4 separate regions of the Homo sapiens genome follow, and all the other regions are linked to region 1. Evidence: fine-mapped expression QTL. A gene starts in region 1. Each other region holds a variant in brackets. All regions are shown on one strand. Distances are from middle to middle.

Region 1 (8,215 bases):
ACAAATTGATATACACAGTTTTATTTTATCTTATGACTTTAATGAGGGAAAGTTGATGAGTCTATTATCTGGTGGCTATCAAAGAGGAAAGCATATATACTGACTAGCATAAATATATCATGATTTTGAATGCTTGCAAGCCAATCTTAGTGGTCCATGCTTAAACTAATCCTTCAAAAATACAGACAGTTTTATATCCATATCCACCACACACTAAAACCTTCCAGCAGCGTCTCTCGAGAAATCAATCAAGAGTCCTTGGAACTACTTTAACCTTAAGAAAATTAACCTGAAGTCAAATGTTACTTCACATACTATATAATTAGTGCAAAGACATATTTATTTTGGTTCTGTTTGTTGAAAGCATTCTTTACTCATTAGCCTCCAGGTACATACACATCAAAGGGAAAACACTCAGTATATGTTACACTGGGAAAAATTACAAGGTGGAAACCAGCTTTGCTAGTCAAAAAAACTTTCCATCTGCAGTAAAATTTAGAGCCCAGAGGGCTTGTTCATACTGCAGTACCAAGCCCTGTTAGAATCTAGACAGTTTTGAAAGGAGAAAAGGCAAACTGAACCATATGGGCTCCAATTTAGTTTCAGGACTAAAGATTAGGACAGAGCCTTGGTAAGCCGACTTTAAAAGAAACACAAAGAAACTGAAGCTCTTACTTGTGTCCAAGTTTGTATGCCCTTAAATTTCAAAGTTACTCTGTTCTTTCACACCACTGTCAGTTGTCCAAACAACTGAAAAATACGAAAATTGTTACAAAAACAATTTGTAAACACAATAGAAGAATCTAAAATAGGGAAAAGTCTTAAATAGCAATTATCAAGGTCCATACATTCACCTATGACTTGATACAAACTATATCCACACAATGATAATCCACCTATCCCTAATTCTGACCCCACCTGGCTCTTCAGCAACATGCAAAGCTTTCCTGGGACAACAGAGGTAAACTTTAAGAACTTGGAGGACAGACAAAAGCTCTAAGGAGTATTGCCTAAAAAATGCTTTAGGAAAATTAGCATCAACCTAACCAAGATCGAGACAAGTAGCGGGCACAGATATCCCTCAAGAACCACATCTATTTGGTTGCTGATTTCCCCTCTCACTTGAAACCCTAAAGAGAAGGCGCAGACTATCGAAGAAAGGAAGAAAAAAAAAAAGAAAAGAGAAAGACACTGTATAGTTGGGGTCTCACAGAATGTACCACTAGCTTGGCTTTGGGCTGTAATTATCATTACTTCCCCTATAGTACCAAAGAAGGTTCAGAGAATTTGGAAATCAAAATACAGATAGTTGGAAGAGTGAGAAACCAATGCCAGGAAGATTTCTGATTATCACAACCTTCCAGAGAGGTCTTCTAGGCAGAGTATTCTTTTCCCCTGCCCACTAAAAGTGACAAAGTTCTCTACTTACCACAAAGGATGTGCCAAAAAGTAATGTTTTTTCTCTAGAAGGCAAAGATTTCCCAGCTTCCTAGTCTGGAACCTGAGCCTAAGGCAAGTCCTTCTACCTTTCCTAGGGGATTATCTGAGGTCTCCTTTACAGTTTATACCTAGGCTCTTGGGCAGAAGCCACAATAAAGGCAAGAAGCCACTAACTATGTATGTTGGGATGTGTGCGTGTATCTGCAAAGATAGATCATATTAACTATAGTCTCCTACAGAATTATTCTTTTTGGTTTAGTTCCTTTAGATCCTGTGAAGAGTAAATAATGTAGAACTTCATCATAAATTTATAATTATAAATGCTTTAGTTTTAAATTTAAAAATAAGAAGCTGAGTCCAAAATTAACTTCCAAAGGGAAAGGAAAGTGACAATTCTGAGACCTTCTATTGGAAGAAAACATCAGCCACAAATTTTGAGTTATCTAGAAAGAAAATAATTAGGTGCCCAAGTATAAGAAATCTGAAAGTCATTATTGTAATCCCAGCACTTTGGGAGGCCGAGGCGGGCGGATCACCTGAGGTCAGGAGTTTCAGACCAGCCTGGCCAACATGGTGAAACCCGTCTCTACTAAAAATACAAAATTAGCTGGTCATGATGACACATGCCTGTAATCCCAGCTACTCAGGAGGCTGAGGCAGGAGAATCGCTTGAACCCGGGAGGCGGAGGTTGCAGTGAGCCGAGATCGCGCCACTGCACTCCAGCCTGGGTGACGATCAAAACTCCATCTCAAGGAAAAAAAAAGAATATATTGTCAGACAATACTAGGAATACTAGGAAACAGTATGTAGGACATTAATGAAACAAGAAAGCATCTATTTACAGAAAGGACAGAGGAAAGGTATACTGTCTCCAAACACTGGCCTAGGTGAGCAACTATTTCTTTTTTTTTTTTTCAATCAACTCTCCCAGGTTAAAACCAACCATTTCTTGAGGTGGAAGAGGTGAGGAAACAGAATGAGTGGACACCATGGAGTTAAGAATGTCAAGGATAAGGGTAGATGGCACGAGATGAGTAAGAAGGAATGGATTTCTCTATAAGGCAGATTTTCAAAAAACTATCCCTTTTGCAAACCTACTGTTTTACAAGAGGCAACAGAAGGTTGCGGAAATTACAATTAAAATTTATAAAAAATGAGAACGATTTCAAGTGGGCAAATCGAAATATGGAGGGAGAGAGTAAAAGTGTAAAAAAGGAATGCACAACATAGATTCAGTAAGCAGAAACACAGCACTGAAGACTGCTGAGGAGAACGGAGACAACGCGAGCACACACCACCTGCAAGTCAACCGGCAATCACTATCCGAATTTCAATACGAAGTACAAAAAGGCAAATGTAACACCTAGATTAGGGTAATGGAGGCGGTGTGCACAGAGATTGCAAGACAAGGCAGCATCCCGCAAGAGCATGGAGGGATGTGGTGGGGGAGGCGTATGAAGGGGGAGGGACTGCAGCAGGGGAGAGAGGGTGGGCTGCAGCAGCAGAAGGCGCCTTAAAAAACAGAAGAAAGGAAAAGCAGCCTAGGGGAGGGAAAGACTAGGACAAAGTCAAGTGTGGGATCACAGGAGGATAGAGTAGAAGAGGCAGCAGAGACGGGCATGCCCTAAAAAAGCAAAGCGGTCAAAGACCCAAAAAGGGCTTGAAGTAGTTTTGAAGGAGGAGGAGTTACAAGGGGTCTACCATAAACCTGACTAGGAGGAGGCATGAGTATAGAGCAGGAGTGAAGGCAGGAGGCCAGGGAAGGGATGCTCTCAGAGGGGTGTGCTGATGGAGACGCTAGATTCCAAATTAGGGTGTGATACGGGGCCAACCGAGAAGAGAAACTACGGTGTCAAATCCCACGCCCCCCACCCCAAAGGCATGCAAGGGTCAGAAAGCAAGGTAAACTCTTGGAGTAGAAATACAAAAAGGAGGGGAGGAAAGGGGCACACGGTGGGATGGAAAAATTTAGGGGCAGCGTAACCATGAGGAGAGGGTAACTAAGGAAAGAAAAAGGAGACGAGCGGGGAGGGATGGTGTTTCCGGAGGAAAAGTAGGAGCAGACCAGAGGTCCTGCCTACTTGGTCTGGAGGGCAGAAGGGGCAGTCCACGGGGGCGGAGGGGAGTGGTGGAGAACGAAACTGCGATGCTGAAGATGAGAACTTGGGGGGGACACGGTACTGGCTGGATCAGAAAACGAAACGCCGTCAGTAAGGAGCAGATGAGGTTCCTTCTGAGCAAGACGAGGGGGAGTGAGGAGCAGAATGCAGCACGCCAAACGGGAAGGCAAAGGGGCGGAGAAGAGCCCAGAGTAATCGGGGCACAGGGAGGAGCACTGGGGGCGCAAGGGCATCAGCTGGAGACGACGGGGTGGGAGACCGGCGTCGCAGAAGCCCCGGGGCGGGTGGTGGGAGGGCAGCCCACAAGGAGGGGCCCGGCTGCGGAGGCCTGAGGGGCGGGGGTCCGGAGGCCGGCTCGGAGCTCGGGGGAGGTGCGGCCTGGGGGTGACAAGGGTAGCGAGGAGTGCAGGGGCAGGAGGGGCGCGGGGAGGATGGGGCGGCGGGTAGCCCCGATACTCACACCTCCAGGATGCGGTCCCCCTTGCGCACCCCGGCCCGATCGGCCGCCCCCCCGGGCAGCACGGCGCTCACATGCTGCAGCGGCGCGTACAGCTCCCCGTTGATGCTCCGCAGTTGCCCGCCCTCGCTCACTTGGCCCCGCACGTTGAAGCCGTAGCCGGACTCGGACTTGACGATGCGCACGACCCGCGGGCCGCCGCCTCCCCCGCCGCCGTTCCCGGCGCAGTGGAGCCCAGACCCCCCGCCGCCGCCGCCACCTCCGTTCCTGTGAGGGGCTGAGGGATGAATCCCTTCCCCGTCCTCGTCCGCCATCTTGCGAGCAGGCGAGCCGTACCCCCGCCCCCTACGCCTCCAAGGCCTCCCGGCGCGTGCTCGCCCTGCCTGGCAGCCGGACGACCCCCGACGCGCGCGCCCGATCCGCCGGCCGCGGGACCGACTCGGCCACCGAGCTGCTGGCGCGGGGTGAAGAGGAGGCAGGGGGCGGGCGAAAAGCGGACAATCGGGCACCGTGGGGCCTCCTGGGAGATGTAGTTTATGGGTGGCGGGGGCGGGGAGCGGTCTGGGCCTGGGCCTGAGCCGAGGTTATAAGACGCAGTTCGGAAGCAAGGCCTGCCGGGAGTTGTAGTTTATCTTTCATGCTGGGTTAGGAGTTTGATCTGCTGGGTGGGGAGAGTATAACCCAGCACCCAGCGTGGTAAAATGATTCAGTTCTTGATGCGGACCAAGTTTTTCGCCCCCCCCCCTTTCATTTCATAACCTCTAAAAAACAATAATGTTAGAATAACTTAACGTTTGTGATTCAACACAGTCTTAAATTATATCAACTCATTTTTTGGCACAGTAACTTATATGTTGACCAGGGCCCAACAACCTGTGAGGCAACCGGATCACGATTAGCTTCCCTATTTTACGTTATTAGGAAACAACCTTAGAGTGCTCAAAGTCATCCAGCTACTAAGTATCAGGAACTAAGGCCCAGTTATTGTGCAACTTTCTTGTCCTGTATTGCAACTACAGTCATGTGCCACATAAGGACATTTTGGTCTACAATGGACTGCAAACACGAGGGAGGCCCCCTAAGATGATAATGGAGCTGAAAAATGTCTATCACCTAGTGGCACAGTAGCCACCATAAGGTCATAGCACAAGCATTACTCACATGTTTGGAGTGATGCTGGTGTTAACAAACCTGCACTGCCAGTCATGTGAAAGTATAGCACATATGATTATGTACAGTACATAATACTTGATAATGGTAAGAACTATGTTACTAGTTTATGAATTCACTGTAGTTTTTATCACTATTTTAGAGTGTACTCCTTCTACTTTTTTTTTTAAGTTAACTGTAAAGCAGCCTCAGGCAGGTCCTTCAGAAGGTATTCTAGGTATTCTAAGTATTGTGATTTTTTTCCACGTATTCCAAGTATTGTGTTTTTTTGTTTTGTTTTGTTTTTTTGTTTTTTTTTTTTTTAAGATGGAGTTTCGCTCTTATCGCCCAGGCTGGAATGCAATGGCACGATATCGGCTCACCGCAACCTCTGCCTCCCAGGTTCAAGTGATTCTCCTGCCTCAGCCTCCCAAATCCCTTGCGATTAAACGCATGCGCCACCATGCCTGGCTAATTTTTTGGTATTTTTAGTAGAGACAGGGTTTCACCATGTTGGCCAAGCTGGTCTCGAACTCCTGACCTCAGGTGATCCAACCACCTCAGCCTCCCAAAGTGCTGGGATTACAGGTGTGAGCCACTGTGCCTGGCCCCAGTTATTGTTACCATCAGATGACAGCTCTGTGCATGTTATTACCCATGAAGACCTTCCAGTGAGACAAGAGATGGAGGTGGAAGACAGTGAAATTGATGATCCAGATCTGGTGTAGGCATAGGCTATGTTTGTGTTTAAGTCTTAGTTTTTAACCAAAAAAAAAAGTTTAAAACATAAAATTAAAAATTGCCTTAAATAGAAAAAAAGCTTATGGAATAAAGATATAAAGAAAGAAAATATTTTGTACATCTGTACAATGTGTTTGTGTTTTAAGCTAACTGTTATTACAAAAGAGTCCCCCCAAATTTTTAAAGGCTGGGTGTGGTGGCTCATGCCTGTAATACCAGCACTTTGGGAGACCGAGGTGGGAGGATTCCTTGAGCCCAGGAGTTCAAGACCAAACTGGGCAACATAGTGAGACCCCATCTCAACAAAAAATAAAAAATTAGCTGGTGGCTGAGCGAGACTATATCTAAAAAAAAAAAAAAAGCAGCTGGGCATGATGGCACATACCTGTAGTCCCAGCTACTTAGGAGGTTTAGGTGGGAGGATCGCTTCAGCCTAGGAGGTCAAGGCTGCAGAGAGCTGAGATCACACCACTGTACTCCAGCCTGACCATCAGAGTGAGATCCTGTCTCCAAAAAACAAAGATGAGATCTCACAAAATATGGGATGAGGACTCAAAGTCATTATAATTAGAACATAAAAATTAATATGACCTTATTTTACAACCAAGCTAATGAAGAAGGATCTTGACTAGTTACACAATAAAGTTGATATAAGAGTTTTGCTCCAAAATAATAGTGGCATTTGGATTGAATATGAATAATTTGGTTTGAACTGAGCACTGGATGGGGAAAGCAAGGCATCAGAGAAAGGAAAAAGAAGGGAGCCTCCCCTAAAAGAGTTATTTTTTCATTGGTTTATTAGATAAAAATATACTGAATGCCTACTCTGAATTAGATAAAAATATACTGAATGTCCCCGAAAGGCAACAGGACATGGTCAAACTTACAAATACACATATTCCTCAAACTGAAGGCGATTCCACTTCCAGGAGTTCATTCTACTGTTACACTTGCACATGTGTGAAGTGATGTTTTTATGAAGTTAAGTCATTGCAGCATTGTTTGTATTCACAAAAGACTGAAAACAACCTAATGTTTATTTGTTAAATCATAATGTATCCACAATGGAAAATTGAATCAATGTAAACACAGAATAAGGAAGCTCTGTATGCACTTATATGGAATGATCATATCATCAATACTATATATGATTTGGTGAAAACAAAGTGCAGCACAATCTATACAACATGATACTATTTGTATATAAAACGGGAACCATGGGCCAGGCACGGTGGCTCACGCCTGTAATCCCAACACTTTGGGAGGCCGAGGTGGGTGGATCACCTGAGGTCAGGAGTTTGAGACCAGCCTGGCTAACATGGCGAAACCCCGTCTCCACTAAAAATACAAAAATTAGCCGGGTGTGGTGGTGCACACCTGTAGTCCCAGCTACTCGGGAGGCTGAGGCAGAAGAATCACTTGAACCCGGGAGGTGGAGGTTGCAGTGAGCTGAGATTGTGCCACTGCACTCCAGCCTGGGCAACAGAGCAAGACTCTGTCTCAAAAACAAACAAAACAAAACAAATACAAAAATTAGCCGGGCATAATGGCAGGTGCCTGTATTCATCAGAAGGCTGAGGCAGGAGAATCGCTTGAACCTGGGAGGTGGAGGTTGCAGTGAGCCAAGATCACGCCACTGCACTCCAGCCTGGCGACAGAGCAAGACTCCATCTAAAAAGATAATAATAAAATAAAAGGGAACCATATATATTTTTATATCTTTAGAAGTATTCACAAGAAATTGATAACACTGATTGCTGCTGGGGAGGGAGACTGGATAGCTAGGGTGTCAGAGGCGGGGACAGGGGTAGGAGAGAGACTTTTCACTTTATACCTTTATGTAACTTCTGAATTTTCAGTCACATGAGTGTTGCCTATTCAAAAAATAAATTTAAAAATATTTAGAAAGGATCAGGTTGGAAGAAAAGATGATCAGAGCATTAAAATAACAAAAGAAAATAAGACACCATTACTGCTGGTGAGAATTCACAATCTAGCAGGAGAGAAAACAAAAAACCATTGCAATAGAGCATGATGAGAGCTGTGAGGAGAGTCCTGCACAAGCTGCTAGGATTGCACATCGGAGGGACTTCCACGTATCCAGAGGGAGGAGTTAGGGAAGATGACTCACGAAATGGGAGAGCTGAGCTAAGTGATTACAGATGAGAAGAGTTAGCAATTGCGGCAGAGAAGGATAGTGGTGGAAGGGCATTTCTGACAAAGGAAACAGCATATTCAAACACACAGAGATTTGAAAGAACACAGTACAGTGTGAGACCACACAGTTCAGTAGGACTGGAGCAGAGG
Region 2 (8,215 bases), 84 kb before region 1:
ATAAAGTCCTGACTCATATATTTCTATTTTCTAGTCACATAGACAGAAAACCTCAAGAGTTTTTAGTACTTTCGCATAAACTCAATGGTATTAAATCATTTAAGATTTCACTTCCACAAACTTTCTCATATCATTTCCCTCTTTTCAATTATCACTGCCTACACTTATTAACTGAGTAATCATAGCAATTTCCTAATTGGTCCTTCTGTCTATGTTCTGAAGCATCAATCTTTCTAAACTGCAGCTAATAAAAAACAAAACTTCTCTGCTGCTGTTTTTTGTTGTTTTTCATAGAACACCTCAGCCTGGCATTCAAGGCTCTTCGAAGCCTTACTTTCCACTTCATTCCTACACATACCCAAATAGAACTATTCATTGTTCTCTAGGCAAGTTTGGTCCCTTTTCTCCCATGTCTTTTCATTCCCAGTTACTACAGTGTCTGGCACATAACGGCTCAATAAATGTTTGTTGAATGCCTTCTTGTTGAAATCCTTCTCACACTAAAACAGTTCACCTTAAACACTACTTTCTTCATGAAAATCTTAACGGCCCTCATCCACAGGTCTTTCTCCTTCCTTTTCTAGTCCTTATGGCACTTAAACCTTTCACTGCTGTGTATCATGGCCATGCGTAAGTGTCTCATTCTTCTGTGAGCCTGTAAGCTGGCAGAAATGTTTCTTTCTTTGCTTTTGTGTCTGTTGCAGTATCTCAAACAATCTCCCCACCCCACCCCCAACAGCAGATACCTAATAAATGTTTGACTTTAACCACTGTAACTCTAATTCTGGAATTCCACTTTGTTCTTCTTTATGGATTCTTTGCTTAGGAAAGGTAACACTTCCCCCCTCCATTAGCACAGTAGTGTTTCTTAGATTTTAAATATCCAAAGCTAATGGGTGGGTGAATGAATGAGCCCCTGAACAATGTCTCTTCCCAAACTGCCAAACAAAGTGCCACAATGGTCCTTGGTCTTATGGTCATCAGTTAGGGAACAAAAGCGTGTGATCGGAAGTTGTAAAAATAATAATAAATGAAGCTTTATAAAAAAATTAAAATGTCTCACCCACCACAAATGCTGAGCTTTTCAGACCAGAGTCAGCTCATAAACAAATGTGCAGAGGAACAGATACCCTTGAGAGAAGGTAATTAGGCCCCAGCCCCTCAGATGCCTCTGTAAAAGCAAAAGGCTGTAGGACCACCCTTCTTCTCAGGAGTGTGGGAGCAGGGGAGAGTAAGGCCACCCACAGTGCCTAGTTTTGTGCTGGACAGTTCAATAGTCATAATGTGTTCCTTTCAGTCCAGATCCCAAAGAGAAAAACTTTCCCGATTTACCTGAAAAAGTATATACCTGTTGCTGGGGGTGGAGAGGAGGGTCCATTGCTAAGATCTGTACCAAAGGCTCTGCCAGGCTCTATCTGCATGGCAGAGAAAGGAATCCTGTGATTCTTCAAAGGATTTTTGTGCAAGCTTGCAGATGGGAGGGGTAAGCTCAATCACCTCTGAGATCTGAAGGAGAAGAAGGAATTTTCAAAGGAGCCACTGGGAAGAGAACTGCAAACCAAGGGCCTCCTGTGGCTTCTTTCCTCACCCTTCTCCATTCCCTGCACTCAAAAAACTGCCACACTAGTTACCTGGGAAAACTGGTTAGATGTTTCTTCTTTTCAGACTGACCACTCTGACTCAAATCTCAAAGGTCCCAGTTCACTTCTTCCCACACAACCCAAAGGATTTGTAGTCTAGGAAACCAAAGAAGTGTTTGATCAATAAATCAATTTATTTAAAAGAATATGTTACAATTAATTACACTAAGTGACATTACCAAACAATTTTAGAGTGGTTAGCTCTAGAACAAGGAATGAAAGAAACAATGTTAGCCATTATTGTGTCTGTGTATTTTCTCTTCACATTTCTTAAATCACAAATAAAAAATACAAGATACTGCAGTGAAAATACAATTAGAGTTTCTCTGAAATAAATTAAATGTGCATGGCCTGGGAAAAACTGAAGCCCAGCTCACTGGCTTAAAAGGGGGTCATGATATAAAATTAATGTCCAAGTTTAGCAGGCGGCCAAGTGCCCCCACCCCGTATCACTCCCCTCTTTGATTCTATTCCTTACCACAGCCCTGACCTTCCCACATACCCTAGATTATTGCTGAGGAGTGAGCTGATGCTGTCCTGGCAGCAAAGAGGCCTGGCGTGATGTGCTCAGGTTTAGGGGAACAGGAAGTCAAGAGGTGGACCTGGAAGATGGGGAGCTAGAGAAGCATACCCACTATCTCTCTTCTCCCTCCCTCTCTCTGAGTGTTCTATCACATCATCCTCCCAAAGGAAGCTACTGTGACACAATGAAGCTGGTGAAGAAACAGCAGTATGCTGGGGTCAACAGATCAAACAGCTTCTACTGCTGAATGAATCTAGCCAAACAGTATGATGGCGAGAAGGGAGAGCACAGCAGTCCCTCCTGGTCTGGAAAATTCAGGTCAACTAGGATGCAGTCCCCTTCAAGAAAACTACCTCCTAGGAGCCCAGCCCAGAAGTTGGCAAATTCTGAGATAGGAGAGAGTTTCATCTCCTGTCAGTGCCCTATTTTGCTGCTCCAAGTGCTGGGTTTGGAGCTACAGGAAGGGATAACCCAAAGCTACTGGCCTGGGTAACTAAAGGATGAAACTAAATGGGCCAGGCATGAGGATGTTGGAATATTTATCTAATTCCCCCCTGAGAGCTCAGTCCAGGCCTAGGAGCTGCCCTGAGCATGCACATATCTGTACCTGTGTTTAGGCCTAGGGTAAGGACGGGGTGGAAAAATGGAGAATAGAATAAACATATAAAGAGCAGAGGGCCCAAAGCATGGCCCAAGGGAACCTTTCTGCAGGGACAGGTTTCTCAGGGTCTACATTTTCTCCTGGGCCATAAAAAGCTCTGAGCTTCTACCCCTGAGGATAGAAACCAAGTGTGGAGGAAGGCCAGTGAGAGACCAGGAGGATCCTGCTGGTTCTGCTGGGATGAAGCTGGGGGCACTGGGAGACCCCCTCTTCCCAGGGACAAATTGCAAAAGAAGTCTGGGTAGAAGCCTCCCTGGGCAGAAGCTGGGACTAAGAAGAACAGTAGGGATTACAGAAAGGAAGTGCAGAGGAAGGGGAGAGAGAAGAGTCACAACACTGCTTCATGCAAAGAAGGGCTTGATCCTATGGGATCCACGCAGCCACAGGGAACCCGCCTCCATCACCCAAGGCCGTGCATGGGTGGAAGAGAAGAAGGCGCTGTCCTTTGGGGTGCCCTCCTTCCCCACCTCCTTGCTGCAGCTGGGTGCGTTGTTACTGGGACACTTTCAAAAGGGCTGTTCCTAAATAAATTCTGCCAACAGGCCAACTACCTATAGGGCCCTCACCTAATCTCCAAAGCACCAAGTGAATGCTATGCCAGAAAGGGAACATAACACCATCTACCCATTCTAAGGGGCCTCCAAATCCCTATGTCTCATGTCTGAAGGTCAGCATTCAAGCTGTCGCATGGAATCCCAGCTCTGTTCACTACTGTCCCACTCTGAGCGAGTAGGGGCAAATTGCTATTTTTACAGTTTGAACAAAGCTGGTGCCAAGTCTCTTTAGCATCTAGGAGTGGGAAATCAACATGTCTTCTTTTCAGGGTCCTTTGGCTCATTTTAAATTCATTTAAGTCAAAAGAAGTTAGTTCTGTGTCAAAGTCTTCAAATTAGGGATCCCTCTGCAACTTTACACATTCAGCATTCTCAC[G/T]TTTTGTACTCTGTGATTTCACCTAGATTTGGAGAAGGTGAGGGAGGAAAGGCTGTCCTCTTTGATCCCATACCATGCAGGGGCAAATGGCTGCCAGCATAACAAAATAAGAAGGAAAGAAAGAAAAGTGGGCCAGGCGCAGTGGCTCACTCCTGTAATCCTAGCACTTTGGGAGGCCGAGGTGGGCAGATTACTTGAGGTCAGGAGTTCAAAACCAACCTGGCCATCATGGTGAAACCCCGCCCTACCAAAAATACAAAAAATTAGTGGGGCGTGGTGGTGTATGCCTGTAATCCCAGCTACTTGGGAGGCTGAGGCAGGAGAATCGCTTGAACCCAAGAGGCAGAGGGTGCAGTGAGCCGAGATCGTGCCACTGCACTCCAACCTGGGCGACAGAGCAAGACTCTGGGAAAAAAAAAAAAAAAAAACAGAAAAAAAGGAAGGAAGGAAGGGGAAAGAAAAGTGGCCTCACAATGATTTGCAACAACAAATTACAAAAAAGAGATGAAAGAAGGAAAGCAAAAGAAAGAAAGAGAAAGAAAGAAAGAAAGAAAGAACGAAAGAACGAAAGAACGAAAGAAAGAAAGAAAGAAAGAAAGAAAGAAAGAAAGAAAGAAAAAGTGGCCTCACAATGATTTGCAAAAACAAATTACAAAAAAGAGACTTTCCAACCACCCCAACACTGCTTAGTAGAATTGACTACAACCAATTATGACTGTCTCCCAGTTAGAGCAAAAGATGCCATCCTAGGAAGGTTTTTGTTTAGAAAGGGGAGAAGGGAAAAAGAAAAGGCTCAAAGATGTGTTTTAGTTGCATCTGAGCCTGACTTGGTGCTTCTTATGCATTATCTACAGAGCTTAGGGGCTGGGAATATTGTCCTACCCCAATTAGCCCTGGCTTCTGATCCTGGGATGCAGCTCTTAAGTCTCAAAGGGTCTAGCTGCAAGATCAGATGAGGAGCTCTTTAACGGACAGAAAGCAGAAAGGTTTTCGTTCAGTCTCCTTTCAATTAAAACTTGGGAGATCCAATCTAATCAACCATATTCCTACTACTCCTTCCTAGGTTCTCAGCTGGCTTGGATGGGGCTATCGTTTGGTTGGCACAGACCACTGACCCACTGCAAGTTTCCCCAAGGCCTTGAAGATACTATTGGATCCCTTCCCATCACTGCTGTTTAAGGAAGTCACAGAGAATGCCGTAGTTATGGGTGGTTATTGGTCAGGAATGGAGGAGGTAAAACCTCATGTACATAGGGCATTTCTTGCTTTCTTTCCTCTATGTAAGTCCAACCTGTGTGCCTAAGGTATCAGCTTAACTCTGGTCCTGAGTACTATCCCTGCTGCAAAAAAGGCAGGGAAGGACACAGTGGCTCATGCCTGTAATCCCAGCACTTTGGGAGGCTGAGACAAGAGGATCACCTGAGGCCAGGAGTTTGAGACCAGCCTGGGCAACATAGTGAGACCCTGTCTCTACAAAAAAATTTTAAGAAGAATTAGCCAGGTGTGGTGGTGCACACCTGTAGTCCCAGCTACTCAGGAGGGTGAGGCGGAAGGATCACCTGAGCCCAGAATTCAAGGTAACAGTGAGCTATGTTCATGCCACCACATTCCAGTCTGGGCGACAGAGTAAGACCCTGTCTCAGAAAAAAAAAAAAAAAAAAAAAAAAAAGGCAAGGAAAACAGGAAATTACTACCATGAAGTGTTTCAGGTTCAGGTTCCCATGGCATCAACCTCCTGAGCCAGGGTCGGTTGAGGGAAAGCATACCGAGGCTCTAGGAAAGCAGGAAGGAGGTGCAGAATGTGGCTAGAAAGCCAGGAGTGAGAGAAATAGATGGATCAAAAAAATTGTCACAGAATCAAGAGCCCATACCAGGACTTCAGGCTCTCCCTGCAGAACTACAGCCTGTTAACCTTGAGAAACACACCTCTTTCTCCTCCCCAGCACCCTCTTGGAAGATAAAGAAACTATACTCCTTGTTCCTAGACTCTATGGCAACCCATGAGCCGGAATCTATACTCAATACAAAAAAAGGGGCAAAAATCCAAGCAGGTTGTAAACTTTTCAAGTCCTTCATGAGGAGAGGTATTTTTCCCTGTAAAATGCTTTTTTTTCCTTTTTAAAGTTTGTTTCAAAAGAAAGAGAGCACGAGGGAGGTCATGGATTCTAGTGAAAGGTGTGTAAAAACACAAGCTAAAAAAGGTACTGCCATCAATATGAAATTTAAAAAGAAATATATATATGTATATACGTGCAGCTAATTTGTGTATATATAATTTTTACATACATACATATATATGTCTGAACAGTGCAAATGGATGAAGTTCATAGTTCCAGTTTTAAAAATATAGTACAAGGAGAGGCTGTTGGTATGAGGCCCAGGTGAAAGGACAAAGATACCTTTGGCAAGTTGGTTGGGCTTATTTCTTTTCCTGCCTTAACTCAGTTGACTTCTGGTGCTGACCGATCTGCTGTTCACTACCACCTCAATTCCAGAGACATGAAATTCAGAGGGGGTTATTAATAATATTTAGTTTAGGGCTTTTGAATATAACGACTTTAACTTTTTCTCTTCTTTTTTGTTAATGGTTACTCTGTCTGAAATGGGACATGAAAGGAGTAAGAGGATGGGGGTGAAGGGAAGGGAAGGGGATAAGGAAAGGCTAGGTGGCCACATCTCTCTGCTGTGACCTCGCCATCTGGAAAATGTTCTGAAAGGAAAAAAAAAAAGAGTTATTGGGAAGGCACATCTCCTCTTATCTGGAGACAACTCCACAAACAGAAGCTAAAAAGGTATGCCTGGATGACTCAATCTGATTGGCCACATCTTTCTTGATATAACTTCTCATCTAGAATCATAGCCTTTTAGAGCCGGAAGGGACCTTGGATATTAATTACGTGGTTCAGTCTTCCTGTTTCACAGAAGAGAAAACTGAAAGCTAGGGAGGCTGATTTACCCAAAATTACACAGAGGGAAAAAAAAGCCAGGAGAAAACCCAGATAAAATTCCCAGAGCCCAATGTTCTTTCTACTGTACTAAAATATAAATTTTCATGTTCTTGACTTGACCTCCTGATTCTTTCAAAGATTTTCTTTGAGAATAAGTAACTAATTATTCAGAATCTTCCAAATTCTGTTCCAGCACTGGCACATACAGACAGCAGTAAAGCAACAGCAAACACCTTCCCTCACACAAACATTCTTGGTTCGCCTAGAAAGACTGCCAGGACTCATCCAGTCAAGACGGCTACAACTGAGGACAGCTTCCCCTGTGGGTCAGGAACAACATGGAGGGTGATCTGATTTAAAAAACTGGCAGAGGAGGGTCCATGAAGTCATGAGAGATGGAAGAGCCTGTAGCCAATGTCCACCCTCTAGACAAGGGAAGAAGCAGGGCTTTTTTGCACAGCCCGTTCACCATCCAGAGGCCAACCTTGCTGGAAGAATGTCCTGGCTCACATGAGATAATCAGTCTCTAACTAATATTCCTAGAAAGACAGAGATGGAGGTGAGGGTCCCAGGTATTTGGCCACAGGCCTATAAATTTTAAAGAAACAAAAAGATGAAAAGGTCAATTCAAGGACTGTTCAGAATTACCTCTTTTCTCCACTTGAGCTCGCAGAACACCCTCTCGAAGCACTCATGCATGTAATTGAACTGAAAAAAAAGGTGGTGACACTCACTAACTTCTCAAGAGCAGGCATCTCAGGACTGTGCCTTTGAACTCCTGTCCCCAGTCATCCCATCTTCCAAACTCAGTCTAGAGAAAAACCCTGACAAGTACCATAAAACCCAGGCCTGGTTCATCCACTATTCTCTAGCTCCTTCTAGTGGTAACTACGAGCCAAGTGGGATAGGAAATTGCCAATTCCAGTCAGGCCTAAAGCAAAAACAGGATGAATCTGGGGGCTCCAGGATTCAAACAGGTTCGGATCTCAAGACAACTACTAGCTCTATCTCTCTCTCCATTTATGCATTTAGCTGAAAAAAAAAACAAAAAAACAAACTAAGTCCCAGTTACTTTCCCCAAATTGCACTCACATATGGCGTGAAGATTTTAACCCATCGGGGCTTCTTCTCTCCTCGTGCATATTCGAAACAGAAGGCCATCCCTTCTTCATCTGTGTCCCATCGCTGCATCTCATCCCATTCAAATGCAATTACCTGGTTCTGGACAACCAAGACAAGGGAGTAAGGTACAGTCTGTGTTTCAGAGTGCTGGGGAACTGAGGTAGGGGGTTCTGAACCAGGAGACAGAAGAGAAATGAATGGATGTCTGCATCGCTTCAGAGAAAGGACTGTGATAGAAGAATACAAATCAGTGGAAGCAGCCAATGAAGTTGAGGATCAGTGTGGATTCCATGCCTGTTTATTTGCCCCAGTCAAAATACAGTTTTGATTTCATTTCCCCCTAAAATGGAATTAAAACGTCACAAGCAAGTGAGCATCAAAGTATCTCCAG
Region 3 (8,000 bases), 36 kb before region 1:
GCCTCGGCCTCCCCAGGTGCCGGGATTGCAGACGGAGTCTCGTTCACTCAGTGCTCAATGGTGCCCAGGCTGGAGTGCAGTGGCGTGATCTCGGCTCGCTACAACCTCCACCTCCCAGCCGCCTGCCTTGGCCTCCCAAAGTGCCGAGATTGCAGCCTCTGCCCGGCCGCCACCCCGTCTGGGAAGTGAGGAGCGTCTCTGCCTGGCCGCCCATCATCTGGGATGTGAGGAGCCCCTCTGCCTGGCTGCCCAGTCTGGAAAGTGAGGAGCATCTCCGCCCAGCCGCCATCCCATCTAGGAAGTGAGGAGCATCTCTGCCCGGCCACCCATCGTCTGAGATGTGGGGAGCGCCTCTGCCCCGCCGCCCCGTCTGGGATGTGAGGAGCACCTCTGCCTGGCCGCGACCCCGTCTGGGAGGTGAGGAGCATCTCTGCCCGGCCGCCCCGTCTGAGAAGTGAGGAGACCCTCTGCCCGGCAACCGCCTCGTCTGAGAAGTGAGGAGCCCCTCTGCCCGGCAGCCGCCCCATCTGGGAAGTGAGGAGCGTCTCCGCCCGGCAGCCACCCCGTCCGGGAGGGAGGTGGGGGGGGTCAGCCCCCCGCCAGGCCAGCCGCCCCATCCGGGAGGGAGGTGGGGGGGGTCAGCCCCCCGCCCCGCCAGCCGCCCCATCTGGGAGGGAGGTAGGGGGGTCAGCCTCCCGCCAGGCCAGCCGCCCCGTCTGGGAGGGAGGTCGGGGGGTCAGCCCCCCGCCCGGCCAGCCGCCCCGCCCGGGAGGTGAGGGGCGCCTCTGCCCAGCCGCCCCTACTGGGAAGTGAGGAGCCCCTCTGCCCGGCCACCACCCCGTCTGGGAGGTGTGCCCAACAGCTCATTGAGAACGGGCCAGGATGACAATGGCGGCTTTGTGGAATAGAAAGGCGGGAAAGGTGGGGAAAAGATTGAGAAATCGGATGGTTGCCGTGTCTGTGTAGAAAGAAGTAGACATGGGAGACTTTTCATTTGGTTCTGTACTAAGAAAACTTCTTCTGCCTTGGGATCCTGTTGATCTGTGACCTTACTCCCAACCCTGTGCTCTCTGAAACATGTGCTGTGTCCACTCAGGGTTAAATGGATTAAGGGCGGTGCAAGATGTGCTTTGTTAAACAGATGCTTGAAGGCAGCATGCTCGTTAAGAGTCATCACCACTCCCTAATCTCAAGTACCCAGGGACACAAACACTGCGGAAGGCCGCAGGGTCCTCTGCCTAGGAAAACCAGAGACCTTTGTTCACTTGTTTATCTGCTGACCTTCCCTCCACTATTGTCCTATGACCCTGCCAAATCCCCCCTGTGAGAAACACCCAAGAATTATCAATAAAAAATAAATAAATTTTAAAAAAAAAGAGAAAAATTAGAGCTAAAATAGAATAAAACACCCAAAAGCTCTAGGACAATATCAAACAGTGTAAAACACAGGTAACTAGAACCTCCAGAAAGGCAAGAGAAAAAGAATGGGCTGAAGAAATGTCTGAAAACATACTGGCTGATAGTTTTCCAAAAATAATAAAAGATATCAAACCACATATTCCTCAAGCAGGACAAATAAGAAACAAACACCTAGACATGTAAAAATGAAACTCTGAAAACTAAAGATAAGGAGAAAATGCTGCAGGCCAGGTGCAGTGGTTCAGGCCTGTAATCTCAGTGCTTTGGGAGTCTGAGGAAGGAGGATTGCTGAGGCTGAGAGTGTGAGAATAGCCTGGGGAACATAGCAAGACCCCATCTCTACTAAAAATTTTTAAAATTAGGTGGCCAGGTGCGGTGGCCGACACCTGTAATCCCAACATCTTGAGAGGCTGAAGTGGGCAGATCACTTGAGGCCAGAAGTCCAAGGCCAGCCTGACCAACATGGTAAAACCCTGTCTCCAGTAAAAATACAAAAATTAGCCGGGTGTGGTGATGCACACCTGTAGTCCCAGCTACTTGGGAGGCTGAGGCAGGAGAATTGCTTGACCCTGGGAGGTGGAGGTTGCAGCGAGCCAAGATGGTGCCACTGAACTCCAGCCTGGGAGACACAGTGAGACCCCATCTCAAAAAAATAAAATAATAAAATAAAATATAAAAGTTAGACAGGTACAGTGGCACATTCCTGTAGTTCCAGCTACTCGGAAGGCTGAGTCAGGAGGATCACTTGAGCCCAGGAGGTCAAGGCTGCAGTGGGCTATTATTGCACCATTGCACTCCAGCCTGGATGACTGAGTGAGACCCTGTCTCTGTTTTTTAAAAAGAGAGTAAACTTTGAAGGTAGCCAGAGAGGGTTAAAATAATCCATAGAAAAGACCAAAAAATAAAACAAGCAGGCTTCTCATCAGAAACTATGAAAACCAGAAGACTGGAGTGATTTTGTTTTAAATTGAGACAGGGTTTAGCTCTGTCTCCCAGGTTGGAGTGGAGTGGTATGACCACAGCTCACTGCAGCCTCAACCTTCTGGGTTGAAGTGATCCTCCTGCCTCAGCCTCCCAAGTAAGTGGGACTACCAGCATTGTGTCACCATGCCCAGCTATTTTTTCATTTTTTGTAGAGACAGAGTCTCAGTATGTTGCCCAGGGTGATCTCAAGCTCCTGGCCTCAAGCAATCTTGCTGCCTCAGCCTCCCAAAGTGCTGGGATTACAATGGAGTGATTGTTTTTTTCTTTTGGTACTTTAAAAAAATAAATAAATAAAAATTTAAAAAATCGGCCAGACACAGTGGCTCACGTCTGTAATCTCAGCACTTTGGGAGGCAAAGGCGGGTGGATCACGAGGTCAGGAGTTCAAGACCAGCCTGGCCAACATGGTGAAACCCTGTCTCTACTAAAAATACAAAAATTAGCTGGGCGTGGTGGCGGGCGCCTATAATCCCAGCTACTCGGGAGGCTGAGGCAGAGAATTGCTTGAACCCAGGAGGCAGAGGCTGTAGTGAGCCGAGATCGTACCACTGAACTCCAGCCTGGGCAACAGAGCAAGACTCTGTCTCAAAAATAAATAAATAAATAAAAAGAAAAAGAAAAGAAAAAAACAATCCACCAAGAATTCTATACCCTGAAAAAATCTTTCGAATATAAAGGTGAAATGAAGACTTTTTCACATCAACAAAAGCTAAGAGAATTCATTGCCAACAGACCTGCACTATTAATGCAAGAAATATTAATGCAAGTTCTTCAAGCAGAGGGAATCTAATGCCAGACAGAAACTAGATTTACACAAAGGAATAAAGTGCATCAGAAATGGTAAATATGGGCTGGGCATGGTGGCTCACGCCTGTAATCCCAGCACTTTGGGAGGCCAAGGTGGGCAGATCACCTGAGGTCAGGAGTTCATGACCAGCTTGGACAACATGGAGAAACCCTGTCTCTACTAAAAATACAAAATTAGCCAGGCGTGGTGGTTCATGCCTGTAATCCCAGCTGCTCGGGAGGCTGAGGCAGAAGAATTGCTTGAATCTGGGAGGTGGAGGTTGCAGTGAGCCAAGATCGCGCTATTGCACTCCAGCCTGGGCAAAAAGAGCAAAACTCCGTCTCAAAAAAAAGAAAGAAAGAAAGAAATGGTAAATATGTGATCAAATATAAAATAACTCTTTTCTCATGTTTAATCTCTTTAACGCCAGGCGTGGTGGCTCATGCCTGTAATCCCAGCACACTTTGGGTGGCCAAGGCTGGCGGATCACTTGAGCTCAGGAGTTCAAGACCAGCCTGGGCAACATGATGAAACCCCATCTCTACCAAAAACACAAAAAATGAGCTGGGCGTGGTGGTGCGCACCTGTGGTCACAGCTACTCAGGAGGTTGAGGTGGGAGATCACTTGAGCCTGGGAGGCAGAGGTTGCAGGGTGCCAAGATTGCACTACTGCATTCCAGCCTGGGTGACAGAGTGAGACTCCACCTCAAAAAACAAAAACAAAAAACAAAAAACAAAAAAACCCCGACTCTTTAAAAGGCAATTGTTTTTTTGTTGTTTTTTTTTTTAACTTCTTAAATGCACAAATTTATTTTTTCTCAACAAACACACATCTTAATGCCTTTACAACTTTTATCTCCCCAAATATACCTTGCTTTTCTTTATACATGCTGTATACAGAGTTGTTTTCCTTATATTTAGTAGTTATTGCTTTTTTGTGCCCTTTTGGGTCCTGAATTTACACATCAGGCATAGATCTTGGGACAGGAAAGAGCTGTGAAGCAAATTCCTGGAAGATCAAACCCCTTCCAGCATGGCCAGGTAGCACAGCTGAGCCAGGGATGATGGGGCCATATTGGGTTTGGCTCTGCCTTGCAGCTGGCAGTCCAAACACTGAGGACATGCATATTTCTGCAGGCCTCACTATGGTCATCTGTCCAAACCCCAGAATCCAGAGACTCA[A/C]AACGAAATACAGTCATACAGTAAGATATGTGCAAGGTTTCAGGGAGCCCAGCAGCCAGACCTTACAGCTTTAGCTCAATTTAGACAAATCAAGCAAGTTTAAGAAATATTCCAGAAGTAGCAGTTTTATGACCTTAAAACATGTAATAGGCTGGGCACGGTGGCCCATGCCTGTAATCCCAGCACTTTGGGAGGCCAAGGTGGGCAGATCACTTGAGGTCAGGAGTTCGAGACCAGCCTGGCCAACATGGTGAAATCCTGTTTCTACTACAAATACAAAAATTAGCCAAGTATGGTGGCTTACACGTGTAGTTTAGCTATTCGGAAGGCTGAGGCAGGAGAATCACTTGAACCTGGGAGACGGAAGTTGTGGTGAGCTGAGATCTCACCACTGCACTCCAGCCTGGGCAATGAGAGCAAAACTCCAGCTCAAAAACAAAAAACAAATTAAAAAAAAAAAAAAAAAGTAATAGAGATGATGTAAACCTGTCTGTCAGTAGACCCAGGCAAAAACAATTATATTTAACTGACAATCCTGAAGCCTAAAAGGCAATTGTTTAAAGCAAAGATAACAATGTATCATTAAGTTTATAACACATATAGAAGTCAATGTATGACAACAATAGCACAAAGGATGGCGGGGGGAAATATACTCTTGTAAGTGTCTTAAATTATATATATAGTGTGTGTTTGTTTGTGTGTGTGTGTGTGTGTGTCTGTGTCCAGCCTGGGCAACAGAGAGAAACCTTGACACACGCACACACACAGAAGGTATTATGCTAAGTATCTTCTATAACTACAGTGGGGTAAAGTTAGAAATTGGTAACAGAGGGAAAGCTAGAAAACTCACAAATTTGTAGGAATTAACATCTGACGGGGGGACAAAATGGCCAATACAAATATATATTATATATTTATATATTATAAAATTAGATATATTAGATATACTTACCTATATACAGTGTTATACTATATATAATATATATGTACTATATATTATGTCTATACAACTACAAATTCAAATATATAATTTGAAGGTAAATGTTCATAAATTATAGATATATACTGTAAACCAAGAAAAAAAACAAATTATACCTAATAAAACAATAGTAGAGATAAAATAGAATCATTTAAAAATACTCTATCCATCCAAAAGAAGGCAGGAAATGAGGAAAAAAATAAATAATGATACAACATAGATAGCAAAGAACAAGATAGTAGATTTAGCCTAACTATAGCAATAATTATACTAAAGGTAAGTAGTCTACACATTCCAAATAAAAACATTGCCAGACTGGATAAAAAAGCAAGACCCAGCTCTAAGCTTTCTATGAGAAACCCAGTTTAATTATAAATGTATAAATAGGTTAAATGGAAAATATAGCAACGAAAACAATAACCGAAAGAAAGGTGACATGGCTACTAGTGGCTATATGTTAGTGGCTCATATGTTATATGAGAGAAAGACTTCAGAACAAAGAATATTACCAGGGATAAAGACAGATAGATATATTACAGATAGAGACTTATATAAAGAGATAAATAATGTTAAAGGGATCAATTCATCAAGATATAATATTCATTATAAATAAAGAAAAACCTGACAGAACTGAAAACTCCATTTCAAGTAGTGCATACACTTCCTGTAGACCAACCCTTCTGCTGTAACCACTATAAATTCTGGACGAAATACAAAAACAATTATCTGAGGAGTCTGAATTACACACTAAAAGCAGGCAGACTGTGGAGGGGACTCAAAACATGGAGCAATGATGCACAGGGTGGGGTACACTCCTGCATTAAGAGGGCTTTGCCCTGCTTGTGGGCATAAGTTACAAAATAGCACAATTTAAGTAACTAAAACTCAGAAAGTGACGTCTTTCTGACTCAAACATATAGGGAAAAGATTCTAGGTAACCATGGCTGCTACCAGAGTGAGTGGAGAATCCAAGACAAGAGAAAACCAGAGAAGGTGATCCTTAATTCTAAGAATAAACACCACATGTATCTCAGACTAATCCCTTCTTGGATGTATACAGACTCAAAGTAGCACAGCAAAGGCTGAAAGAATTAAACTGAGATTTGAAGTTTAACCCACAGAAGGCGACACAGCTTACAGCTTATTGCCAGCTAAAACAAAAACATCGATACTCCTCAGAGGAATATTACAGAACCCAGAGTCTCCACAATGTAACATTCATAAATATGCAAGATACAATCCAAAATGACTCAATATACAAAGAACCAGAAGAATATGACCCATTCTCAAGGGAAAAGACATTTAACAGAAACCAATCCCAAAATGACACAAATGTTCAGACACATAAGGAACAGACCAATGAAACAGAGTAAAAAGTTCAGAAATAGAACCACACATAGTCAATTGATTTTCCACAATGATGCCAAGATATTTCAATGAGGAAAGAACTTTCTTTTCAACACAGGTTGCTGTGAAACAACTGGATATCCATATAAAAACAAAATCAAAAACAAAACCTTGACCCTGGTCAAGGGCTCACACCTGTAATCCCAACACTTTGGGAGGCCGAGGCGGGTGGATTACCTGAGGTCAGGAGTTTGAGACCAGCCTGGCCAACATGGCAAAACCTCATCTCTACTAAAAATACAAAAATTAGCCAGGTGTGGTAGCGCATGCCTGTAATCCCAGCTACTCAGGAGGGCTGAGGCAGGAGAATCGCTTGAACCCGGGAGGCAGAGGCTGCAGTGGGCCAATATTGCGCCACTGCACTCCAGCCTAGCTGACACTCAAAAACAAACAAACAAAAAAACCTTGACCTTTATATCACAATATACTAAATAAATAAATAAATAAATCCCTCAAAATGGATCACAGACCTAAACGTAAGAGTAAAAACTATGGTACAGCCACTTCGGAAAACAGTTTGGCAGTTCCTCAAAAGGTTAAACCTAAAGAGTTACCATATGACCCAGCAGTTCCATTCCTAGGTATATATCCAAGAAAAATGAAAACACATATCTACACAAAAACGTGTACACAAATGCTCATAACAGCATTATTCATAATAGTCAAAAGTGGAAAGAACCCAGATGTCCATCAATTGAAGAATGGATAAATAAAAGTGGTATATCCATATAATGGAATGTTAAAATGAAGTACTGATGCATGCTACAACTTGAATAAGCCTCAAAAATATTATGCTGAGTGAAAGAAGCCAGTTACAAAAAAAACCATGATTCCATTTCTATGAAATGTCCAGAATACGCAAATCTATAAGACAGAGGATAGATTAGTGCTTTCCTAGAATTGGAGGGGATGGGAGGTTTGGAAAATGATGGCTACAAGGAATGAGATTCTTTTTGAGGTGATGAAAATGTTACAAATTTGTTTTATGCTTCAAAAGTGCTAACTTTGAGTCATAAGACATGTAAGAAGTTGAAATCAAGGTCACATCCTAAAAGTAGAGCAGACTGGATGTTGAGACCTTTTGGGAATTACCTAAAACCTTGGGAACTTGAGAAAAGGAATGAAATTACTAATTGTACTTTTATTTATCTATTTTTTTTTTGAGACGAAGTCTCACTTTGTTGCCCAAACTAGAGTGCAGTGGTGTGATCTGGGCTCACTGCAACCTCTGTGAACACACTA
Region 4 (8,000 bases), 75 kb before region 1:
GACAGGGGTGGGTGGTATAGAACAGAACTCTTCTGGGGTTATAATAAACAGCAATGCCTGAAACACAGAGGAGTGAGGAAGAGGCCCAGACTACCCTGGGCTTGAATCCTGGCCCCATTACTTCCATTACTTCCTAACTGTGCAACCTTGCGCAAGCTACTTTAAGGCAGGCAAATTACTTAATCCCAGGTGCCTCAGTTTCCTCTTCCATAAATGGGAAATAATAATAACATCTAAACCACAGTGTGATTTGTGAGCATTAAATACAGAGTATTTGGCTGGGCATGGTGGCTCACACTTGTAATCCCAACACTTTGGGAGGCTGAGGTGGGAGGATCACTTGAACCCAGGAGTTAGAGACCAGCCTAGGCAATATAGTGAAACCCCATCTCTATAAAAAAAAAAACAAAAAAAAAATTTGCCGGGCACCTGTAGTCCTAGCTACTTGGGAGGGTGAGGTGGGAGGATTGCTTGAGCCCAGGAGGTCAAGGCTATGATGGAACCACTGCACTCCAGCCTGGCTGAGACTGCACCACTGCAATCTCAAAATAAGTGACCTGTCTCAAAACAAGAAATAAAAATAAAAAAGATATTTAACATAGTACTCAGCCATAATTAGGCATTTAATAAATGACAGCTAAAAAAAAACTTTTAAAGTATCTGGAAATTACTTTTAAAAATCCCTGGGGTGAGCTTCAAGTCAGTGACAGTAAAACAAACAAACACACAAATCTCCTGAGGGGAAAAAAGCATGTGAGTGAGATAGAGGCAACATGAATGGCAGAAAGTCGAAGGCTATCGAAGCTGGGTAATGGATACAAGGGGATTAATTGTATTTTTCTTCCAACTTCTTTATGTATTTAAAAATTTATACAGCTGGGTGTGGTGGCTCATGCCTGTAATCCCAGCACTTTGGGAGGCCAAGGCAGGCAGATCACCTGAGGTCAGGAGTTCGAGACCAGCCTGGCCAACATGGTGAAACCCCATTTTTACTAAAAATACAAAAATTAGCCAGGCATAGTGGCATGCACCTGTAATCCCAGCTACATGAGAGGCTGAGGCAGAAGAATTGCTTGAACCTGGAAGGTGGAGGCTGCAGTGAGCCGGGATTGTGCCACCGCACTCCAGCCTGCCTGGGCAACAGACTGAGACTCCATCTCAAAAAAAAAAAAGTATATATAGATACAATAAAATGTTAAAAGAAAAAGAACACCCTAGCAACCAGGCCTCTGGCACTCAATCCAAGCCATCTTCCTAACATAGTCATCAGAAACTTTACATGCTCGATAAGCAGCAATTCTGCTCCAGGACACTTAACACCTCTGTAAATGCCAGTGGGTGTCGTTGACCCTTGAAACTAGTACTACTCATGTCCTTTAACAAAACAGGATTACATACAGCACATCTGTTGAGAGTTCTCTTCGTTGAGAGGTACCACTACTGTTTTGACAAATATTTCTGCCACAATCTCTAATTGGGACTTTTACTATAATAGATCTTTTAAAAAGAGAGAAGCATGCCGACAAAGGCAGGGATTTGGGAAAAGAGATCAGAAGAAGCGTGGAGCTCTGAGTACCTTAAACTCTCTCTTTGTGACCTTGAGTAAGTTATTCTACCTGGGGTCTTCTCTTCTGCCATCTGGAAATAAAAGACATTGCTGCTATCCTGTCTTCCCTGATGCAGGGAAAAATATATGCACTGGAGCCTGACAAAAATGGGTTCAAATCACATTTTCAAATTCTAGTTCCACTTCTGAGAAGCTACGTCATCTTAGGTAAGAATCTTAATCTCTCAGACTTCACTTCTCTGTAAAGTAAGAATAATACCTGCAGGGTTGTTATAAGGAGAAAATGAGACTTCATATAAAGTGCCTAGACCAGTCAGGCACATAATACATGCCCTGTCCGTCCCCTCTGAATCAAAAGACTAATTTATCCCTCCATATTCAAGAATGTAGTCCTTGAAAGCAAAAGACCTTCAGGGGACTTCTTAATGGCATAAGCTCTAAAAATAACCCAAGTGAAAACTAAGGGCACCTGTGCCCTTGGTGAGCCGATAAAGGTAAAGTCTCATTGGAAGACAAGGTTTTCAGAGAGCTCAGATTGGGCAGTATTTATCAGCATTAAGTGGGCAGTCTCTACATTCTTGGGCTTGCACAAAGCCTCAAAGAAGAAACATTTAAAACTTTACAGGAGAGGATCAGAAAAAACACCCAGGTAGTATCATGCTTACTACCTGGGTGACAAAATAATCTGTACACCAAACTCCCATGACATGCAGTTTATCTATGTAACAAATCTGCACGTGTCCCTAAACCTAAAATGAGTTACAAAAATTTATTTATATAAATCAAAAATTCGTAAAAACAGGTGAATTTTTTTTTTTTTTTTTGAGACAGAGTCTCACTCTGTTGCCCAGGCTGGAGTGCAGTGGCATGATCTCAGCTCACTGCAACCTCCGCCTCCCGGGTTCAAGCAATTCTCCTGCCTCAGCCTCCTGAGTAGCTGGGATTATAGGCGTGCACCCCCACACCCAGCAATTTTTTGTACTTTTAGTAGAGACGGGGTTTCACCATGCTGGCCAGGCTGGTCTCGAACTCCTGACCTCGTGATCTGCCTGCCTTGGCCTCCCAAAGTGCTGGGATTACAGGCGTAAGCCACCGCGCCTCGCTGAATTTTTGCTTTTAAGCATGTTTACATAAGGATATTTAAAAGGGTATTTGGTATTTAAAACACCAAATCATCCTGCCCATTCTCCTTTCAGGGACTTCCCACTTAAAGTTGACAAATACTACCCAACCTGAGTCTCTCTGACCACCCTGTCTCCCAGTGAGACTTTACTCTGTTGTCTCACCAAGGACACAGCTTCCCTTAGTTTTCACTTTAAGTTTTGAGTAACTATGTATCCCGAATTATCTTCCTTTATTCATGTATCATGTAGAAAGTGGCCCATTTAAGCCAGAGAATTGGACAGGTATAGTACAGGATATTTTATAAATGTTCAATATTCAGCAAGACAAATAAATACAGACATAGGGCAGTTTTTTTTTTTGTTTTTCGTTGTTTTTTTTTTTTTTTGAGACAGACTCCGCTCTGTCGCCCAGGCTGGAGTGAGCGGCGCGATCGCGGCTCACTGCAAGCTCCGCCTCCTGGGTTCACGCCATTCTCCTGCCCCAGTCTCCTGAGTAGCTGGGACTACAGGCGCCCGCCACCACGCCCGGCTAATTTTTTGTAGTTTTAGTCGAGACGAGGTTTCACCGTGTTAGCCAGGATGGTTTCGATCTCCTGACCTCATGATCGGCCCGCCTCGGCCTCCCAAAGTGCTGGGATTATAGGCGTGAGCCACCGCGCCAGGCCGACAGTTTTTAAAGCAGAGACTCAGTGTTTAACAGAGCAGAACACTTTAGGTGAATGGGTCAAGGTCCACTCCAGAGAACTCTCTGTTCTCCCAAACAACCTGCTAAGGGTCAAACCAGGTCCAAAATAGAAGTAAGGGACTGAGAGGAACTTCAAGAGCCAACTCTCCCAAAACCAGAATCAGAGTAGTGATTCTGAAGCACCTAACGTTCCAGAATCACCAGTGTGCTTTTTAAAAATAAAGTTCCCTAGGTCCTACCCCCAGAGATTCTGGCTTAGTAAATGTGGGGTGGAGTCTAGAAATCTGCATTTTAAGCAGCTTCAAAAGTGTCTTCCATGTAAGTAGACTGGAGACCACACTTTGAGAAAAACTGACATACATGCTGCCTTGTGTGAAATCAATACAAATTATGTAGAGAAACACAAAAGCTCTTTATTTATCTGTTCAACAAGGGCAAAATCAGGCCACTTCAACATAAGAAAAGCATAATTTACACATGTCTACTGTTTGTGTGAGGAGACAGAAAGGGAGGGAGGGAGGAAGGAAGAGAAGAGAAAACATTGTTTCTTGTATATTATATTCTCAACCATCCAAATTTGAGATTCAGTCTAACTTTGTAAGTAAGTAAAAAACAAAAATGTTTTTGATCACACTGGGTATTATAAACTATGCACAGACGTGAGCTCTCTTCTGTATTTGAAGATTTGGAGGACAGGGGAACTTACACAAAGCTTATTTATCTTCCAAGAATCTTGGTGTATTTTGTCAAGATTCTACTTAATAGCTGATAATCGGAATATCCCCATTTTACAGAAAAGAAACTAAAACTGAGAAGTTCATTGTGTTGCTGCAGTTCTCACAGTGATGTGACAACTACTAATTGTAGTGACCTGGCCTAATCGTAGGCCTGTTCACCACACTTAGTTGCTATGGTTAATGGCATCAGGGCCTATGGGCTCAGAAGGCCCATGTGAGAAGTTTCAATGTATTGACCATGACCTAATATTGGCTAGGCTAATGCCTTTGAACACTGATACTTGAATACATATTATACTCATAAAATTCAAACT[T/C]TGATGAGCCTTTCTTCAAAATCTGACTATCATATCATGTGGCTAGTACACAGAAATATGTTGGCACTAGGTTTTCAAGACAATCTAATTCCACAAATGTTTAAGCATATTTTATACACAATGGCAAAAGACCATGGGGAAACATATCTGTCTATCAACTATACTTGAGTTTTTACCTGGGTGATTACAAAATATAAACAAGTCTAAAAATGACTTCATAATAGATTACTGTGTTTATTAAATTCAGATTTTCTATATTTTGCCACAGCACAATGCAAACCTATGTATTTCTCTCACACCTTGCACTGTGCCTGGCACGTACTTGGTACTCAACAAATATGTTTTGTTGAATACATAGATGGAAAGATAGTGTGTTTGGAATACTATAAATGCAAAGAAACAGTATGTATTCCACACTGGTATTATCAGAAGACCTTATGAAATTATTTTGACTCTATTAACTTTTCAGAAACAAGAAAACTCTGTTGGCTTTAGCAAAGGCAAAGGATTACTGCAGAAGTTGATGGCCTGTTAGTATTTGGCCCTTTTCACCAAAAAGATGCAAATGTATTGGTCAGAATCATGCATTAATATATAGAAGACAATGCCATTATCTTAAAGAACAGGTGGAAGTCGTGTTTTAAAATTCTGTCTCACACATAGCAAAATTCTCCTAACCAAAATTCTGCCAAGATTTAATTACATTTAAAAGATTTTGCATTTTCTATGTCAGCCTGCTGATACGTAGAACATTGGTAAGGTGGCTCCCTGATCTTCGGCAATTTTCTAAGGTATAGAGATTTATTACTTTTCATCACATAAATGATTAAAATAACTAACTTAGCTAGATATAAGATTACAGGCTAAGTTCAATGGCTGACTGGTTTGCATTTTTTGTTGTTGTTGTTGTTGTTGAGACGGAGTCTCACTGTGTTTTCCAGGCTGAAGTGCAGTGTTGCAATCTCGGCTCACTGCAACCTCCGCCTCCCGGGTTCAAGCGATTCTCTGGCCTCAGCCTCCTGAGTAGCAGGGATTACAGGCACATGCTACCACGCCCAGCTACTTTTTGCATTTTTAGTACAGATGGGGTTTCACCATGTTGGCCAGGCTGGTCTCGAACTCCTGGCCTCAGGTGATCCACCCGCCTCAGCCTCCCAAAGTGCTGTGATTACAGGTGTGAGCCACCGTGCCCCGCAGCTGTTTGCATTCTTATTCCAACCCAATTAATGTACATGAATCAATATTCTCTCCTGAAAAGTACACAGAAGGTACAAAAGAATTCAAATGACCTATCAGAATCACTACTAAAGAATGAAAATGATACAGATGGTCACTAACTTACAATGGTTAACTTAATGCTTTTTTGACTTTATGATGGTGTGAAAACAATGTGTGTGCAGTAGACATTGTACTTCAATTTTTTTTTTAACTTTTCTGCTGTCTTTACAAGTACCTCAAATTTTTGTTCAAAACTTTAAATAACTTTAGGCCTGGCACGGTAGCTTACGCCTGTAATTCCAGCACTTTGGGAGGCTGAGGCAAGCGGTTCACTCAAGGTCTGGAGTTCGAGACCAGCCTGGCCAACATGGTGAAACCCCATCTCTACTAAAAATACAAAAATTAGCCAAGCGTGGTGTTGGGTGCCTATAGTCCCAGCTACTCGAGAGGCTGAGGCAGGAGAATCGCTTGAGCCCAGGAGGCGGAGGTTGCAGTGAGCTGAGATCACACCACTGCACTCCAGCCTGGGTGACACAGCAAGACTCAGTCTCAAAAAAAAAACAGTTTAAATAACTTTATTCTAAACTGGGCTTTGTGTTAGATGATTTTGCCTGACTGTAGGGTAATATGTGTTCTGATCACATTTAAGATAGGCTAGGCTAAGCTATAATGTTTGGTAGGTTAGGTGTATTAAATGCATTTTTGATTTAATATTTTCAACTTAAGATGTGTTTATTGGGATGTAACCCCATCGTAAGTTGAGAAGCATGTATAATTGAAAAAACTTCAACTGCATGTGAATCTGCCAAGAGAGAAATTTAAAAATGTTATAATGAGTAGAAATTTTTATGTGTTCTTTACTAATTTTATTTTTGACAATTTCCATCCCTGTATCTATGGCAGATACAAATTGAAAATGAATTTAAAGCCATTTAAGGAATACTCTAGGCAGCCCTGTTCGGCAAAACTTTCAGTGATGATGAAAATGTTCTATACCTGCACAGTCCAATATGCTAGCTATTCACTGTGCACATATGGCTGCTTAGCATTGAAATGTGGCTAGAGCAGCTAGAGAACTGAATTTTAAATTGCATTTAATTTAAATGAATTTAAATTTATATTTAAATACCTACATGAGTCTAGTAGCTATTGAATCAAATAGCACAATTCTAGGATGATATACTAACCAAGAGCACTACGGAGCATAAATGTTTAAGCAACTGCAGAAATGGAAGCTGTAAAAACAAATGATTTTGCTATTGCTAAATCATGACTAAAATAACTCCTAATGTTAAAAAGCTAAATATCAGGTCTTATACAATCTTATCTATATCCTATTGTAATGTTTTACACAACTTTTGTTTTAGCACTTTTTAACCAAAAAATAGTTATTATTAATAATAAAATTATGGGCCAGGCTCAGTGGCTCAGTCCTGTAATCCCAGCACTTTGGGAGGTCGAGGCAGGTGGATCACCTGAGGTCAAGAGTTCGAGACCAGCCTGGCCAACATGGCAAAACCCTGTCTCTACTACAAATACAAAAATTAGCTGGGTGTGGTGGCACATGCCTGTAGTCCCAGCTACTCGGGAAGCTGAGGCAGGAGAATCGCTTGAACCCAGGAGGCAAAGGTTGCAGTGAGCCTAGATCGCGACACTGCACTTCAGCCTGGGCAACAGAGCAAGACTCTGTCCCTCCCCCACCCCACCCCCCAAAATAATAATAAAATTATGTACTAATACACAGTAATTCAAGATCTTTGTGTGTTAAATGGAGAAACACAATGGACTTTGCATCAAGGTCCCTATTCCCCTCCTTTTTTAAAATTAGTTAAGCCACTAACCAGGTTGTAATCCTTTCAAAAATGACTAGGACTATAGGTTTTAAAGGTAGGAAGGGGCATTTTTAAAGGGATTATGGGGACATAAACTTACCATGACCATTTTTCTTTGTTCGTATAGCTTCTGTAATTGATAGGACTTTTCTTCTGCTTTGATGTAACCTTTCTTCACATCATCGACTGCCTATCACCAAAACAGAAGTAGAGCAGAAAGGAGTGTAAAAATCATTATTATGTACATTCTCGATGAAAACAGACACAGACGCATTTTCAGAAAATCTCTTATCCACTTGGACCACCATCATTACCAGTGAACTCTGCCACATGTCCAGGGATATGGTCTGGCTCTGTGCCTCCACTCAAATCTCATCTCAAATTGTAGTCCCCATATGTCGAGGGAGGGACCCGGTGGGAGGTGACTGGATCATGGTCTGGTTTCCCCATGCTGGTCTCATGATAGTGAGGGAGTTCTCACAAGATCTGATGGGGTTTTTTTGTTTGTTTTGAGACAGAGTCT

Direction of the effects. Positions count from the first base shown, and alleles are read on the strand shown. Sizes are in standard deviations (SD) of each study's normalised expression. Not every link is listed here.
In carriers of allele G in region 2, the expression in coronary artery of the gene that starts at base 4,484 in region 1 tends to be lower than with T alone (small effect, 0.39 SD a copy in GTEx).
With allele T in place of C in region 4, the expression in transverse colon of the gene that starts at base 4,484 in region 1 is lower (small effect, 0.27 SD a copy in GTEx).

Evidence for each region. PIP is the estimated chance that this variant, and not a neighbour inherited with it, causes the effect.
Region 2: its variant is the best candidate, but not a certain one, in a credible set for the expression of SNX27 in coronary artery (GTEx, PIP 0.69).
Region 3: its variant is the best candidate, but not a certain one, in a credible set for the expression of SNX27 in whole blood (INTERVAL, PIP 0.80).
Region 4: its variant is the best candidate, but not a certain one, in a credible set for the expression of SNX27 in transverse colon (GTEx, PIP 0.57).

What each region holds. Positions count from the first base shown.
Region 1 is chr1:151,608,319-151,616,533 of GRCh38, reverse strand. It overlaps SNX27 (sorting nexin 27), which reads right to left and starts at 4,484. Exons shown (of 12, transcript NM_001330723.2): 1 at 4,022-4,484. The coding sequence starts at 4,332. LOC124904420 (a long non-coding RNA gene) reads left to right here and starts at 3,166. Exons shown (of 2, transcript XR_007066622.1): 1 at 3,166-3,343; 2 at 4,135-6,017. RefSeq lists a silencer at 4,129-4,568 and an enhancer at 4,609-4,708.
Region 2 is chr1:151,692,619-151,700,833 of GRCh38, reverse strand. SNX27 (sorting nexin 27) reads right to left here. Exons shown (of 12, transcript NM_001330723.2): 10 at 7,795-7,923; 11 at 7,351-7,410; 12 at 1,754-6,464. The coding sequence ends at 6,417. CELF3 (CUGBP Elav-like family member 3) reads left to right here. Exons shown (of 13, transcript NM_007185.7): 13 at 1-776. Among named protein-coding and RNA genes, the nearest start is that of CELF3, 20 kb to the left of the region's middle. The variant G/T (reference allele first, on the strand shown) is at 3,755.
Region 3 is chr1:151,643,971-151,651,970 of GRCh38, reverse strand. All of the region lies in intron 2 of SNX27 (sorting nexin 27), which reads right to left. Among named protein-coding and RNA genes, the nearest start is that of SNX27, 36 kb to the right of the region's middle. The variant A/C (reference allele first, on the strand shown) is at 4,373.
Region 4 is chr1:151,683,023-151,691,022 of GRCh38, reverse strand. It overlaps SNX27 (sorting nexin 27), which reads right to left. Exons shown (of 12, transcript NM_001330723.2): 8 at 7,578-7,667. Among named protein-coding and RNA genes, the nearest start is that of CELF3, 30 kb to the left of the region's middle. The variant T/C (reference allele first, on the strand shown) is at 4,428.